2 separate regions of the Homo sapiens genome follow, and region 1 is linked to region 2. A link means that fine-mapping ties the variant in region 2 to the expression of a gene that starts in the linked region. Tissue or cell type: whole blood. Region 2 holds a variant in brackets; the other region holds the start of a gene. All regions are shown on one strand. Distances are from middle to middle.

Evidence for each region. PIP is the estimated chance that this variant, and not a neighbour inherited with it, causes the effect.
Region 1: AKR1B1 starts here. The variant in region 2 is fine-mapped to the expression of AKR1B1 in whole blood (TOPMed, PIP above 0.99).

Annotation. Positions count from the first base shown.
Region 1 is chr7:134,457,923-134,460,606 of GRCh38, forward strand. It overlaps AKR1B1 (aldo-keto reductase family 1 member B), which reads right to left and starts at 1,178. Exons shown (of 10, transcript NM_001628.4): 1 at 1,075-1,178. The coding sequence starts at 1,140. RefSeq lists a silencer at 788-977.
Region 2 is chr7:134,564,544-134,567,209 of GRCh38, forward strand. AKR1B15 (aldo-keto reductase family 1 member B15) reads left to right here. Exons shown (of 12, transcript NM_001080538.3): 3 at 55-226. The coding sequence starts at 77. Among named protein-coding and RNA genes, the nearest start is that of AKR1B15, 17 kb to the left of the region's middle. The variant C/T (reference allele first, on the strand shown) is at 1,025.

The DNA.
Region 1 (2,684 bases), 110 kb before region 2:
CCAGGAGTTCCAGGCTGCAATGAACCATGATTGTGCCACTGCACCCCAGCTTGGGCAACGAGACCCTGTCACAAACAAACAAGCAAACAACAAAAACAGAAACTGAGAAACCCAGGTTATGGCTGTGGAATATAATATGCAATACTTAGAAGGTTAAAAATTCTAGGTTTTGCCTCAGCTCCCATACCACCACCTTTGTTGCTCAATTTTCAGATAATCAGGCTCAGGCTATTATTTTTGGTTTTTCATATCATATTATCATTTTTCATATCCTATGATGTTTCATGTCCTATTGTCATTCTCATCCGGCTAGGCACTTCTCGGGGACGCTGTGTGGTGTTGAGGTTTTACAGGGAAAATGCTAACCTTGGCGCCTCCTGAATTATCAACTAGCTACGGGGTGCCCAGATTTTTCTCCCGAGTTCCAGACCCAGGGCACCCCGAGGCGGCGCCTGGCCGAGGAGCTCCGCACTGCGCCTTGTTAACAGCTGGGTCCGGGCAAACTCGCGCCACCTAATTCTCTGCCCTCTACCGGCTTGAGATGCTTATTCCTCAGGGAGGGCAAGAATCGAAACGATTGAGACCAACTATTTACAAGTGAGGCAACCGGGCTACAGGTGCCTCGAGGGAAAGGAGGCTGGGTCTGCGCTCCCACACCTTGCCGACGGCTCCACGTCCCTGTCTGCGCCCGAGGTCCACCGGTCTGTGAAGCCCACTTTCCCCGCCTCCCTCTCGCGTTGTGCCGCTTGGGGCGCCCGCTAGGACCCAAAATGCGGACTGGTGGGCCGCCCATCAAGGGTTGCCCGCGGTAGGGCGGGGGCTCCCGTGAGCTGCTCCCAAACCCCACTCGCAGGATGCTGCCCTGACGCCCAGGGCCAACCCGGGGAGCCAAGGCCCCCGGTCTCTGCAAGGCCGACCCCAGCCCGCTGGGGACCCTGCAAGCCCGCGCGTGGCTCCCAGCACGCCGGGCGTCCGCGGGGCGAGCTGCTCAGGGTCACTCGGGGTCCCTCGCCAATACAGGCCGCGCGGAGAGTGTGAGGCGAGCCCCGGGCCCGCGCCCCCACGAGCACCTACCTTCCAGGTACCCAACCCCAGGATGGGCATCTTGGCGCCGTTGTTGAGCAGGAGACGGCTTGCCATGGCTGCTGCGCTCCCCAGACCCCCGCCCAGTACGGTGCGGCCTTGGCCGCGGCGCGTACCTTTAAATAGCCCGTGAGGTCGGCAGAAAGGGCGCCTGCGGTTGGCGCGCCGCTGCGCGAAGGAGCCTTCTGATTGGTTGCGCTGGGGGTGCCGCGGCGGCCTTCCCCAAGGGTCGGCGGGGATGCTTCTTCCGCCTGGTCCTAGTGGCAGCGGATTCTTTCCGCCCCCAACGCTCGCCCGCGCCCCGCGTGGCAGAAAGGAGTTCCTCAGCTGCTGTATCTGGTGGGAAAGCGAATGCTTTAGCGAAAATAACAGGCATCCCATAAATACATAGACTAGAAATAAGTTTTGGTTTCATTAAGAGCCCAGAAGAATGCCTTTGTTGTCCAACCCCAGTTTGATGCTCTTTGGGAATCTGACGAATACCTTGTCCTTAATCTATGTGAATCATACTGACTACACATATAGTTTACCGCACTTTGTTCTTAGACAAAGGTGCATGCCAGAAAAATGGCTTGCAATCCTTTTGCAAAGCACCTTCACAAAATATGGGTTTGCCCAGACTTTTTGTAGCCTTCTAGATCTCTCTTTGCACCCCACTCTAGGTGTTAGCTGTGTCTGTGCATACTAGGTGTGGTTCAGCAAGCCTTCCACCAAAAGCCAGCATCCTTTGATGTTCTTGAGGTTAGAAAGCCTTGATGGGCTTGATCCAGAACTCTCAGAAGAATTTGGAAAGTAAGGCTGTCCATTCAGAATCAGTAAGACAAATTTCATCAGTCTTTGGAAAGTGAGACTCTATCAAAGCAGTAAGTTCCAGTACAGTAACTTATCAAAACTCTCTAGAGGAAGAAAAGTGAACAGACAGAAAACCACAGAAGAAAAAGTTGACTCTAATATTGTAGCTTCCAGTATTTCAAATTAGAAGGTACAAAATAGTAAATTGATCACCCTAATTGGCAGGTAGAAACACACATTTTTCCAAGATAGCCTAAGAAAAGTCACTTGAAGATCCTTGAAGACAATTTTGGTTTCTTTCCAACAACCTCTCTTCATGATACTCTACCTCACCCCAACTGCTCTTTCTGCTCCATCACCCTCCGATCTTTCCCCTAATTATGCAAGATTGGGAACTCCATCTGCCTGGTAGTGACTCAAGCACCAGGTCTCTCTAAACTCCATGCCGGTGATTTTCCATTTGGTGCTTTCTTTAAAAGTGCTCCCTCCTGGAAAAATTTATACAGAACAGACTAGCCCAGATATTTTTCCATGTAACTTTTGTAAAAATTGTTGCTATTGGGCAAATTCATTTGTCCCCAAGTAATAGAATTTGAACTTGAGCCTAAAGCTGGGAACTTGCTTTGTGTAAAACAGCAAGTTCCTTCCTCCATGAGAGTCCTCTTGACTTGGAGGTTGCTCTGCCAATTGAACCTCCTGGGTCCAAATCCAAAGAGCTAATCTCTTGTGAAAATGATACACCTTGAGTGGCCAGGTTGGTACACACAGAAGGGTCGTCTGTTAGGGACATGGACTCAATATCAGAGGCT
Region 2 (2,666 bases):
ACTCACCTTTGGGCCCTGTATTTTTAACCTCCTTGTCAAATTTGTTTCCTCTAGGATCGAGGCCATCAAGCTACAGATGGTCTTACAAATGGAACCCCAAGTGAACTCAACTAACAACTTCCACCAAGGACCCCTGGACCAACCCGTTGGCCCTTTGACTGGCCTAAAGAGTTCCCTTCTGAAGGACACTACAAGTGCAGGGCCCCTTCTTCGCCCCTATCCAGCAGTAAGTGGCTAGAGAGGTCATCACCCAATTCCCAACAGCAGTTGTGGTGTCCTGTTTAGATGGGGGATTGAGAGGTGAAGCCAGCTGGACTTCCTGGGTCAAGTGGGGACTTGGAGAACTTTTCTGTCTAGCTAGAGGATTGTAAATGCACCAATCAGTGCTCTGTGTCTAGCTAAAGGATTGTAAATGCACCAATCAGCACTCTGTAAAAACGCAGCAATCAGCACTCTGTAACTAGCTAAAGGGTTGTAAATGCACCAATCAGCACTCTGTAAAATGGAACAATCTGCAGGATGTGGGCAAATAATGGAATAAAAGCTGGCCACCCCAGTCAGCAGCAGCAGGGAACCGCTCAGATACCCTTCCACACCGTGGAAACTTTGTTCTTACCCTCTTGACGAAAAATCTTGCTGCTGCTCACTCTTTGGGTCCACACCACCTTTAAGAGCTACAACGATCACCACGACAGTCTGCGGCTTCATTCTTGAAGTCAGCGACACCACAAACCCACCAGAAGGGAGAAACTCCAGACACATCTGAAGGAACAAACTCCAGACACAACATCTTTAACAGCTGTAACACACACTGTGAAGGTCCACGGCTTCATTCTTGAAGCCAGCGAGACCACGAACCCTCTGGAAGGAACCAACTCTGGACACAGCAGGACGTGAGACTTCTACCTGCTCACTCAGAATCATTTCCGCACCAACCATGGCCACGTTTGTGGAGCTCAGTACAAAAGCCAAGATGCCCATTGTGGGCCTGGGCACTTGGAGGGTAAATATGCAAATCTTTGCA[C/T]AACTTTCTTCTCTGGAGGGCTGTTTGGGTGTTTTCTCTTTCTACATTCAGCCAGAAAAGCCTGGAGGTCGGGTAGGGGTTTGGAGAGGTGAATTTCAGTCCTGGAGCTGGGACTCGGGTTGCTTTCTTTTCTCAAAGCTGATTCAAGCTGCAATGCTGCAAGACTGGCTTTCCCAGCAGTGATGAGAACTCCTCTAGCAAGTATCAAATTTCAAGCAGAGTTGGACTTAAAATTGTTTTCCAGGGCAGTTTCTCTCTCTGGCTCTAGGACACTTAATTGGGCACAAGGTTTCCCCAGAGTCTTGGCTGTGGGTTTGTTGTGGGCTGGGTGGTTGTGGAGAGGATGCAGAGCCAGAAGTCCCTGGCACCACTTTGCAGATCACCATGTGGGACTTGGGCTAGCAGCATCCCTATGACCTGGGAGCTTGTTAGACATGCAGAACTGGCTGGGTGTGGTGGCTCATGCCTGTAATCCCAGCACTTTGGGAGATCCAGACGAGAGGACTGCTTAAGCCCAGGAGTTGGAGACCAGACTGGGCAACATAGCAAGACCCAATTTCTACAAATAATCAATAAATTAGCTGTGCATGGTGGCATGCAGCTGTAGTCCCAGCCACTTGGGAGGCTGAGGTGGAGATTGAGTGTTGAGCCTGAGAGGTCAAGGCTGCAGTGAGCAGTGATTGTGCCACTGCACTCCAGTCTGGGCAACAGAGTGAGATCCCGTGTAAGAGAAAGAAAGAAAGAGAAAAAATGCAGAGTCTCAGGCTTCACCCAGGCTACCTAACGGGCATCTGCACTTTAACAAGTTCCCTAGGTGGTTCCTGTACACATTGAAATCTGCAACATGCTGGGACTGCAGAGAGCCTGGGCTGGGAGTCGTGAGCTCCACCCGGCTGTTTTTATGACAGCTGGCAAAACACGCTAAGGCACATTGAGGACTCAGTGAGGCAGGTTCCTGGGCCTCTGTTAGGCTAAGTTTGAAGTTGTTCCATCACTGCCTCCCTCTGCCTTCTTTGCCATTTCCATCCATGATAGCACTACCCTAACTAGTGATGAGAAGCAGTCTTTGGAGTTCCTCTTCTCTCCTGTCCCTCATGGCTAATTTCCCTGCTCAGACTTCTGCCTCTGGCTCTCTTTCCTTCTGTGCACACTGACTTTTTTCCCTCTCCTGTGCCGAGCTGGAGGGTAGGACCCTCTGCTGCAGCACTGGGTCATTCTCAGGATAAAGTCTTGGTCTATCTGGGCGAACAGATCACTTCCAGCTCGATTCATACATACTGACTCTTGCTTGAATAGCAAGATTTGCCCCAAATCAGAGCTTTAATCCTATATAAATGGAACAAATAATCACTTCCAGATCTCCAGGGAATCTGCTCACCCTTCATAAGTTTACTAGACAGTTTCAGAATTTTGGAATTGAATGTAAGAATTATGAAGGGAGCTGCCTTCAACACGTGGGGATGATAGATTAAAGGATTATGAACTTAGCAGTGGAGGTGAAGAAGGGTGTAGTATAGCGGTTGGGGTCACAGGGCTGCTTCTAGATGCCAGGTGGCAGCCCGTTTCTTGCCCAGGTGGTAGGGTAGTTGTGCATCTCTGTTTTGTGTACTTTTCAATGTTTGTTACCTCACAATAGAAGAGG